3 linked regions of the Homo sapiens genome follow. The protein of the gene in region 1 interacts with the protein of each later gene in a biochemical or structural test. Each region holds a gene or a part of one and is shown on either strand. Other genes may lie near its edges.

Region 1 (3,751 bases):
CAATTCAATGACGTTAAGAATATACAATGCTGACAAACTAAAGAGTTCATAAATGCCAGTGGTTGTCATCCTCATTATCCTGGTGCTCAGGAAGGCAATGTGAGACCTGTTGAAATAGCACGGGCTTTGGGGTCAGATGATGCTGAATTCCAGTTCTGTGTTGGCTCCTTCGTAGTTATGTGACCTCATGACGCCACTTCATGCAGGGGGTTACGTACCACTTAAATCTCCAGAACATTTTGGGAAATTGACATAGGGTTAGCAAACCTCCCCCACCCCCATATAAAAATATTAATACTTTTTTTTTTTCTGAGATGGAGTCTGGCTCTGTCGCCAAGGCTGCAGTGCAGTAGTGCAATCTTGGCTCACTGCAACATTTGCCTCCTAGGTTGAAACGATTCTCCTCCTTCAGCCTCCCGAGTAGCTGAGATTACAGGTGCTCGCTGCCACACCCAGCTAATTTTTGTATTTTTAGTAGAGATGGGATTACACCGTGTTGGCCAGCCTGGTCTCAAACTCCTGACCTCAAGTGATCCACCTGCCTCAGCCTCCCAAACTGCTGGGATTACAGGCATGAGCCACTACACCCGACCAAGAATATTAATACTTTTTTTTAAAAAATATCGAAGTTATTTATTTATTTATTTATTTATTTATTTATTTATTTATTTTGAGATGGAGTCTCTCTCTGTTGCCCAGGCTGGAGTGCAGTGGCACGATCTTGGCTCACTGCAACCTCTGTCCCCCTGGTTCAAACGATTCTCTTGCCTCAGCCTCCCGTTTGCCACCATGCCCGGCTAATTTTTTTATTTTTGGTAGAGACGGGGTTTCACCATGTTGGTCAGGCTGGCCTCAAACTCCTGACCTCGTGATCGGTGCGCCTCGGCCTCCCAAAATGCTGGGGTTACAGGCGTGAGCCACTGCACCCGGCCCCAAAATCTAACGTTTGTTATCACTGTTGTTTTAGAAAAGAAAGGACATTTTAATGCAACCCATGCCCATCTGTAGGGGCTGAAGGTCCCTCTGAGGTGATTGATAAAGCTGAAAAAAGAGACTATGGGAAGAGAAGAGGAATATTATCAATTAGCTATTTTAGAAGCAGGGCAAACTATGAGCTAGGTATTCCTATAAGGAAATGAAATAATTTACTAAAAAACATACAGCAAGAAAATAATAGAGCTGGAGTTTTCTGATTTTTCTGAGTCCAGAATTTGTTTCACTGTTCTCATTTCAGCTCTCTCTAACAGGATGAATGACCTTGATTTCAGAATCCCCAAGCAGGTGGTGAGATCCAAAACTGAGACAAAAGAAACGGGGCTGTTCCAAAAAAAAAGCTAGGTGGCAGGTGTCTAACATGCCAGGGAGCTAAAACAGAGTGTGTGAGTTTCAGCAGCAGGTTGAATTTAGAATGGGGAAGGAGACCAGAGGAGACGCCAGACAGGATGACTTTGTCCCATTGGCCTGGAGGCAGCCCCATGTTTCTCCACCCCTCATATCACTCACCAGTTTGTAATAGTATCTTTGAATGACGATCTGATTAAGGTCCGTCTCCTCCATTAGTCCACAAGTTTCGGGGGTACATCTACTTTGCTCATTTCCATATCCCCAGAGTCTAGCACAAGGCCTGGTACATAGTAGGTGCTCAATAAATATGTTAGATGAAAGGAAGATAACACCTCTATGTACTAGCAGTGAGACTCCAGGCATGCAATTTCTCTCTGTCCTTCAGTCCCTTCATCTCAAGGTTTAATTTAAATATGGTAACGCCTGTATGCAACTCCCAGCATCCAGTAGGCACTCACTAAACACAGTTCTCCACCCTCCTTTTTTCCTCTGCCCCTCCCTCGGTTTTCCCACTACTTCCTGCATGGTGACACACCCATAGTTTGGAGCCATAAAACCCAACCCAGGTTGGACTCTCACCTCTCCAGCCCCTTCTGCTCCGGCCCTGTCCTCAAATTGGGGGGCTGATGTCCCCATACACCTGGCTCTGGGTTCCCCTAACCCCAGAGTGCAGGACTAGGACCCGAGTGGACCTCAGGTCTGGCCAGGTCGCCATTGCCATGGAGACAGCAACAGTCCCCAGCCGCGGGTTCCCTAAGTGACTGGTTACTCTTTAACGTATCCACCCACCTTGGGTGATTAGAAGAATCAATAAGATAACCGGGCGGTGGCAGCTGGCCGCACTCACCGCCTTCCTGGTGGACGGGCTCCTGGTGGCTGTGCTGCTGCTGTGAGCGGGCCCCTGCTCCTCCATGCCCCCAGCTCTCCGGCTGGGTGGGCTTGGCCATGGTCAGCGTGAACGCGCCCCTCGGGGCTCCAGTGGAGAGTTCTTACGGTAAGTGGGGCTGGGGGAAGACTGGACAGGGCGGGACTGCGGTCAGCTTTGGGAGGCCATGGGACACCTCCCCGTGTGTTTCTTACGGGCCCAAAGCTCCTCCTGGAGCTCCTCTGGAAGGGCAGGAAGCCCCACGGAGGCAATGTGACCGCTTCCCTAAGCTCTCAAGCCGGGGCATGGCCTGCTTGGTGCGAGAAGTGCTGGGAGGGGCCGAGAAGCCCTGGGGCAGAGGCTTGGCTCATTTTGTCTGTCCAGAGGCCTTCCTGGGAATGCATCTCAGGGGTCTTTCCAAAACCCCACAGAGGGTGGGGCTTGGAAGCACCGTCCTGTTTCGATGCGGGGCAAATTGAGGTCCACCAGGAGAGGCTTGCTGGGCCTAGGTCACGTTGCTGGTGCATTATCAAGCTGGGCGTGGGACCGGGCAGCTCGGTCGCTCCGCACCTCCGTTGGCTCTGGATAATGGGGAGGAGGTAGAAAGCGCCGCGCAGGGTGGAGCGTTGGAAAATGAGAATATCTTGTGCGGACGTGTGAAACTCAGATGCAGGGCTAGAAAGCATGTGTTACTGAGAGTGAAAGGCTCAGGCTCACTCCTTAGGGTGACCCCCACATTGGAAGCAACCCAATGTCCCTCAGCAGAGGGAAGACGGGTAAATAAAGCGTGAGACGTCTTTACAGTGGAATGCTATCCCATTGTTCAAGGAAACAACGCACATCTGTGTGTGACAGGGAAGAACCTCTCAGTTAAATTAAGTGAAAACGGTACACTGAAGAACTGTGTAGTTGCTGATAGCGAAACGGATATAGATGTATATATGTACACACGCGTATACGTGTACATTCCACGCATAGAAAATTCGTGGAATGACACAATAAAATTGGTGACAGGTTTGTTTCTGAGGAGGGAAATTCAAGAGAATGTTTTATCTTTTGGGGACACATTTTGGATTTTTTAAAAGTTGGGTGCCTTTTATAAACCTGTTCAAATCACACACCCGCACAGAACTTGGTCTCTGGAATCCAGCAGACCTCGGGGTCTAGTTGTGACTCTGTCACACGGCTCAACATTCACGTGCCTCTTGCTTTCTTTCTGAAGTGGAGACAGGACTAGGATGTGTCTTAAGATCATGGTGGATGCCGTGGGGAACAAGGATGTAAAGCCCTTGATACCACGTGCATTGCAAAGACACAATCAACATTTATGTCATCAATTGCTGAGGACAGAGGGCCAGGGAATGACAGAATCAGGGCCTGATCTCCTGACTCTAGTCAGGAAGAATCTTCTTTGCTTTGACCCCCATCAAACAGGAATATGTGATGCACTGGAAATGGCAGAGGCTGAAGAAACCAACAGCCTGGGAACCCATCCCACACACCAGCTGTGTGACCTTGGGCAAGACATTTCCCCTCTCTGAA
Region 2 (3,751 bases), 9.6 Mb from region 1:
TGTTTACCTGTTCCTTCCTACTCTGGGAATTCTGGCAATCACTGTCCTGAGGCACATTCAAGCTCTCCTTGTTATCCTCAACAACACCCCCAACTGCAGCCACAGACACAGTAGAATTCTGAGGATTCAGCCCACTGTTGTTAGGAAAGCTCCCAGGTACAGGGGGATTGGCCAGAGGAGTGGGACTGACCAATACATTTCTCGGCAACTCCACATTCTGCAATAGGGCTGCATTTGTCTGAGAGGCCAGAGTAAGTTTAGGGGCTTTTGAATTTTGCCTCCCAGGGCTTGGAGTGGTTTTCCTACTGGACCCAGGACTAGACCTGCGACTGTTGCTTGGACTTGCCCGTTTTGTTGCTCCAGAATTAGACTGCTTTCCAGAATTCACTACCACAGAATCTAATTTGTGAGTTTGTGGGGTAGCAAAATTGGAAGGATTCATGGTAAGATTTGAAGGTGCTTGCCCGATGGCCTTCAAAGTTGTTGGATTTAGGCCTTGTTGATCAAAGCCCCTGTTTAAATTTGGCCTAGGAGGTAAAGGAATATTAATCTGTGGAGGGAAGAGTCCTGCTATGGAGGCATTGAGTCTTTCTGGTGACAGACTGATTTCTGAAGGTTCTGTGCTGGGAGGGCGGTTGTTGGGTGTCTGAGGATAATAGGGTCTGGGGCTGGCTCTGTTTGGTGTTTTGGGCCTAGATGTCTGGGTTGGCGCAGCCACATTTGGGAAGTGGTGGCCGTGAGAGCTGGGCAGGGAATTTACAGGGGGTTGCTGGGGAGTTGCACCTTGAGTTGCTGAAAGGGGCGATGGTCCAGGTTTTGGCCCTGTCATCATTAACTGATTCTGGGGAAGTACTACATGTGAAGGCATGTTGTTTGGGCCTCCTGGGACAGATGGTGCTTCACTGCCACTTGCTTCAGGGAGTGAGGCCATCTCCGCCAGTGGCGAGCTGGAAGGATTCTGCGGGCTCTCCTGATAGACCATTTTCCTTGAATTGCTTCCCAAGGGAGTATTCACAGGCATTGGCATTCTTTGTTTATCAGGTGATGGTGGCACGGAGGCAGGTCCTTGCAGACTGACCATGACAGGCACACTGCCACTCTGTTGCATGGGCATTCTCTGGGAGTCGGGGTTCAGGGGGCCCCTTGGAGGATGGACATTTTGAGAGACTGGAAGCCTAACTGATTTGGGATCCTGCTGCATCATGAGCATCATCATCATTTGTTGCTGCTGCTGCTGCTGCTGCTGAGACTGTGGCTGACTGGGAGGTGGTGGCTGCTGCTGCTGAGGCAGTTGTGGCTGTGGCTGCTGCTGTGGTGGCTGTGGTGGGGGTGCCACATGCTGCATGAGTTGAGGAGGCATCTGCTGAAGTGGCCTCTGTTCAACTGGTTGAGAAGGATAACCTAAAACAAGCCCCCCAAATTAGGGAAGTTAGATTTTTCAGCAAGAAAATGTTGCTACCTTTAGAGTATAGCCAAGCAATACTCATCTAGGTGGCACAGACTATGCACAAACAGCTCAGGCATGCCCACTCCTGGGGCAGGGGGCAGCCCCTCATTACTTGACATAAGCAAAAGGGGCACAGTGCTTAAGGAAGCAAAAAGCAAAGCATCAAAAAACCTGGAGCTCCTCGGTGTGTAGGATCTGAATGAGCCATGACTGTACTAAGAGCCTGATTTTCTGTGCTATGCACTGAAAATGGCTGTGTCTATACCAGCCAAACATTCAGATGAAATGAGAAAAACTCCATCAACATCAAGTGCCTGGCCACCCAAGATTCAGGTCTCATGTAGTCATAATCAATATTTCAATGTACTTGTGAATGAAGTAAAGCATTTAGGATTCACTTCTTCTGTTAGCACAGGAATAATTTTTTTAAGATGTGGTTTTGTTGAAAATAACAGCACTGAAGACAGCCTTTTTATTCTTTCAACAGAAGTAAAATATAAAATTCTAGGATTCAGTTCCTTAAGAAAGAGGAATTTAAAATTATTCCAATTCATTGGCTCCATACACTACGCCGCATCCTTCAGGCTTAATCCTTTGGGGGAAACCGACTGAATTAAAATTGCCCTTCAGGTGTAAATCAGTTTAATAAACAGTAGGAGCTAATGGAAGCTGATATACACATTGAAAATAAAATTAGGGCATTGAAGTTTTTATGGATATTAATTTGCACTTACTTTCTTACATGCAAATCTCTATTTGGAGAAATATTTTCCATGAATCCACAGCTGGAGAATAAGTAAGGCAGAAGCATAGCCCTCAGGAATAAAAAATAATTTTGGGAAAAGAACTCTGAAGGACAATGTCTTCTAGATATGCAGAGGGCAACATCTCAAATTATTCTCTTTTTTTGTGAAGATTTTACTTGGCATTTTAGAACCAAAACCTTACAATCAGAAAAGATAAAAAGATACGCAAACCAAGAATAACGGTGGTTCTGTGGGAAAAAGTGGGCATACAGCTGGGCATATATGGGATACAATTCCAGTTCCACAAACTAGATTTATTCCATTGTTGCATGAAGAGTACATTAGGGAGGTTTTAAGAAGGTGTAGGAATAAGAACAACTGGCTCTGGCAGTCAAAAGAAATGCTGACTCAACATTTTCATAGAGCAGCTACCAAATTTTGTGGGTCAGACTCAGCACTCAATTAATGTCTTCTGGCCAAAGATTTCCATGGTATCAATGAATACAATGTGTAGAATCCAGTTTTGAAGATTTTTAAAAAAATCCTTTTTTATTTTAGGCCCGAGTAACTTCTTCACCTTTATAAAGCCAATAACATGGCATTTCTATGGTTCAACTGTCCTTTCGACTACATAGTCAAATACAGTGGGTTCCTATTTTTCACATTCAGTCTGGGGTTCCCACATTAAGAAATTTGTAATTGCTACAAAAGCCTGTTGATGTCAGGGTTATGACATGGATGCCTTTTATCTTTAAAATCAGCCCACCAGACAGTAAATACCAAAGAGGACAGCATAGACAATATAGCAGCCTCTCAAAAGTAACAGTTAAGGGCATGGCTGCTACAGAGTCCAGAAGCTGGAGGCAGCAGTCCAAAAGGCACTAATGATAAGACAGATTGGGGCTGACGTGACAGAATGGTGAAGAGGGAAAGCCAGGACACACATAGTGCCCATAACACAATCACAAACTGAATTTATTACTCAGGGAATGCAAACTCCTATGCCTTTAGGGGCCAGGCAGGTAGTAGAGAATAGAAGTGGACTGGTATAAGACAGCAGGAGTCCTGTCAACAGTGCCAAACTGCAGAGCAGATGCCCTATTTAAAGGCATTTAAACTCGGACTTTTGTTTAAGACACTGCATAGCAACTCAAAACCATTATAGGCCAAATTCAGCCTGCAGGCCCCCAGTTTGCAGAAAGAAGGCAATAAATGTATACAAAGACCCCTGGGATTCTTATAAGAAGAGTTCAGATGTGTCTGAGGCAAGCAGGCATGTTCCTGCTCTCAATGCCTTCTGGACATACTCCCCAAAGACTGATGACCTCCCAGTCTCAGCTATGCTGCTGCATCTCACTGACGGGAAGTGTGATATGCCCAAATAATTTGTAATAAATAACACAAAGTATTGATATCATGATGGATTTAGCTTTTTGTTTGGATTCAATTTTAAAATACATAAATTAGGGGTAGATTAAAGGTTACTCCTAAAATAATGTCGCTCTCATTTTCATGCCAAAAAGAAGTTGAAATAACTAGTGAGGAAGAAACAAAACAT
Region 3 (3,751 bases), on another chromosome or scaffold:
CCACAGATTTCTGAATAAAATGGAAACTACCACCCTCTGGAAACTACCACAGTGGTTCAGTGGCTTCATAGGTCCATTAGGTTTGATCCCAGTGGAAGAAGATTCCATTTCTCTGTCCTTCCAGAAGACCTGGTTTATAACAGTGCATAAGGCTTTTTCTCAAAATAGTTATATACCGCACAAGGAAGAGGTGTGGCTGTTGTGTCACAGGAGACCTAGGGGCCAGGTTTGGGAAAAGTGGTTCCATGTCTTCAGTTGATCAACAAGTATTCAAGTGCTGGCTGTGGTTTCTGAGCTGTAAGGAATCGTGAAAGATAGCATAGAATTTTATGGCTTCATGGAGCTTGAGATGAGAAACTCTAGTGCCAGTATGGAACAGCTTAAAATTGCACAGCACAACAAGTAAAAGTCAGCAGTGAGGGTAGCTTGGTAAAGGCTGGCTTAGCAGGAAGACCACACCAAAGAGGTGGCTCTTGACCTGGGCCTTGGAGGACAAAAAGAGTTGGGCATGCTGAAGGTCAGTGGTCTGAAGATAAAATTATCCCTTGATTCTCACCCCTGTGTTCCCATTACTGAATGTTAGCTCCTTGAGGCAGAGACCTTCGTTTCATTCCCACTAAATTCTTTGAACCTAGAACAGTGCCTGGCACAGTGAGAGTGCCCATTAAATATTTGTGGAATGCCTGAGTGATCCAGTGATCTTGGGCTGGGCAGGATACTAATTGTCTTGGACATGGTTTGGAGTTGGATTAGATCAAGGAAATAGCCAGCCTGGATGCTTCTAGGAGCCGGTCAGGTGAGGAAGGGGAGAGGCAGGCAGGGTGAGTACATTTACTTCCTTTGTATGTGTATGGTGGGGATAAGGGGTGGATGCAACCTAGAGAGCCTCCAGGAGGTGCAGGCAGGCAAGGATCCATTCATTCCACAATGTCTGCTGTGTTCCAGTCCATTGGTACCCTTCAAGGATATGGGCTCAGGGAGGCCACATTCATTTACTCATTGAATGGCTTCTAAGTATTCATGATGGACAAAGGATAACTTGAGCGCGACAGATCATGTGTCTTCTCTCTCACGAAGCTTACATTCTTGATGGAGGAAATACAAGTTGAGTAAAATAAATGAACAGTTTAGGCAGGGCACTGTGAGCAAAATAAAATTGGGCCATATTATAGAGTGTGACTGGGCTAGCCTACTTAGATTCGGAAGTCCAGGGAGGCTTCTTGGAAGAGAGGTATCAGTGTCTGTTTTTCAAGAGATGCCGAAGTCTGGATTTTTATTTGAAATACCCAGATTTTTGGCCGGGCACAGTGGCTCATGCCTGTAATCCCAGCACTTTGGGAGGCCGAGGTGGGCGGATCACCTGAGGTCAGGAGTTCAAGACCAGCCTAGCCAATATGGTGAAACCCCATCTCTACTAAAAATACAAAAATTAGCCGGGCATGGTGGTACACGCCTATAGTCCCAGCAACCCAGGAGGCAGAGACAGGAGAATCACTTGAACCTGGGAGGCAGAGGTTGCAGTAAGCTGAGATCATGCCACTGCACTCCAGCCTAGGCAACAGAATGAGACTCTGTCTAAAAAAAAAAAAAAAAAAAATGCTGGACACGGTGGCTCACACCTATAATCCCAGCACTTTGGGAGGCCGAGGCGGGTGGATCACCTGAGGTTGGGAGTTTGAGACCAGCCTGACCAACATGGAGAAACCCCGTCTCTACTAAAAATACAAAATTAGCCGGGCGTCGTGGCACATGCCTGTAATCCCAGCTACTCAGGAGGCTAAGGCAGGAGAATTGCTTGAACCCGGGAGGCAGAGGTTGCAGTGAGCCGAGATCGCGCCATTGCACTCCAGCCTGGGCAACAAGAGCAAGACTCTGTCTCAAAAAAAAAAAAAAAAAGAAAGAAAGAAAGAAATACCCAGATTTTTATATGTTGGCTCATTTAAAAAAAAAGTACTATAGGCACCCAATAAAGCATGTGTGCTAGTTGATCTCTGGGGTCTTGTACTACTGCAGAACGTCCTGTTGTCCCAGGCCCCCAGGTTTCCCATAATAGAGTAAGTCTACCATTTCATTTTGTGTTATATATCTCTATTTTGAGAAAGGGCCTCATGTGCCATTACACACCAGGTCTTCTGGAAGGGCAGCAAGGTGGGATCCTCTTCCACTGGGATCAGGAAAGAAACAGTCATGGAGGTGACCTTTTTGCTGGGTCCAAATAGATGGGTGGCAGGAGCAGCCTGACAAGTATGTGGGAGGAGTTAGAACAAGCTGCCTTTGGAAATGAAAGTTTACTAGAGATTTCTTGGAATATAGTGTGTGTGAGGAAACAGTAGAAGATGAGGTCTGAGAGGTGAGGTGGAGCTAAATTGTACTGTAGATGCAAGGTGTTTTATGGAAGATAGGGAATTGTTGAAGATTTTCAAGTAGGGGGTGACATATTAATCATGGGTTTTTAAGAAAATTGAATTGTGGGCTGGGCTCAGTGGCTCATGCCTGTAATCCTAGCATTTTGGTAGGCCGAGGAGGGTGGATCACCCGAGGTCAGGAGTTCGAGACCAGCTTGGCCAACATGGTGAAACCCCATTTCTACTAAAGATGCAAAAATTAGCCGGGCATGATGGTGGGCACCTGTAACCCCAGCTACCTGGGAAGCTGAGGCAGGAGAATCGCTTGAACCTGGGAGGCGGAGGTTGCAGTGAACCCAGATTGTGCCACTGTACTCCAGCCTAGGTGACAGAGCAAGACCTTGTCTCAAAAAAATAAAAGAGAAAGAAAAGAAAATTGAACGGTGGTGATAGGCAAGGAAGATTGGAGGCAGGGAGGCCAATTAGGAAACTGTAGCCATCCAGGTGTGAGGTGATGAAGGGTGACAAATTTGGATGGGAAGTGGCCCTCATTCAAATACCTTTCCATGGCACTGACTTGGGCCTCTGCTTGCTTCTCCCTGCAGAAACCCAGTTTGACAGAGTACCCTGCAGTACCTGGCACTGACTAGGTGTTCTGTAAAGGTGTGTCTGATGAGGAAAGGAAAGCACCTCAAGTTCAGTCTGAGTGTTCACACCATTGGGAAGGTTGGAGTGGCCAACTGGGTGAGCAAGGAGTGAGTGTTGGGGATGTGACAGGACATGTCCTCACTGAAGGCTTGTCCCTGAAGGCAGAGCAGAGGGAGAATTCTAAGATCCCATTAAGACTTTGAGCCTGGAGCACTGGGGGAGTTAGGAGTCAGCAGAAAGAGCTGGTTAGGGGAAATGATGAAAATTTATCTTAATTGTGCTGAAATTGGGGTGCCTGGGGGTCATCCATTAGGAAATGAGATGTAGATACTTAGGAGAAGGTAAAACTGGGATGGAGATTGAAGAGAGTCACTGCTGAGTCAAGAGGAGAGAACTGGGAGATTAGAGGTTAGGAAAGTGTTAGCTTTTCAAGGAGTAGTCTGTAGATGGTGGAGACAATGCCACAGAGAACAACAAGGATGACAAGGCCATGCAAGGAGTCGTGGGACTTGGTATTAGGAGGCCAAACCTTGCCAGAACAGTCAGATGAGGGAATCCAAGGCAGAAAGGAAGCAGGGGTGAGTGGGAGATGGGCAGGTGGAAGCAAGTAGTTCTCTTTGGAGAAAGTAGAATAATTTTTTCAATGAGCTGATCTACTTTCTGTCTTGATGAGTTTGCCTGTTCTGGACAACTCATAAATGGAATCAGACAGGTAGCATAATATTGCTTAGGTTCATCATGTTGCAGTGTAGTGTTCC

What was found.
Region 2: the proteins of HNF4A (region 1) and NCOA6 form a complex in vitro, tested with the Homo sapiens proteins (2 studies listed by BioGRID).
Region 3: the proteins of HNF4A (region 1) and SREBF2 form a complex in vitro, tested with the Homo sapiens proteins (2 studies listed by BioGRID and IntAct).

The regions. Positions count from the first base shown.
Region 1 is NC_000020.11:44,353,516-44,357,266, forward strand, and holds the start of HNF4A (hepatocyte nuclear factor 4-alpha), read left to right. Parts: upstream 1-2,183; 5' UTR 2,184-2,289; coding exon 2,290-2,338; intron 2,339-3,228; exon of another isoform or gene 3,229-3,751. UniProt on the Homo sapiens protein: Transcriptional regulator which controls the expression of hepatic genes during the transition of endodermal cells to hepatic progenitor cells, facilitating the recruitment of RNA pol II to the promoters of target genes. Activates the transcription of CYP2C38.
Region 2 is NC_000020.11:34,741,941-34,745,691, forward strand, and holds part of NCOA6 (nuclear receptor coactivator 6), read right to left. Parts: intron 1,402-3,751; coding exon 1-1,401. UniProt on the Homo sapiens protein: Nuclear receptor coactivator that directly binds nuclear receptors and stimulates the transcriptional activities in a hormone-dependent fashion. Coactivates expression in an agonist- and AF2-dependent manner.
Region 3 is NC_000022.11:41,835,980-41,839,730, forward strand, and holds part of SREBF2 (sterol regulatory element-binding protein 2), read left to right. Parts: intron 1-3,751.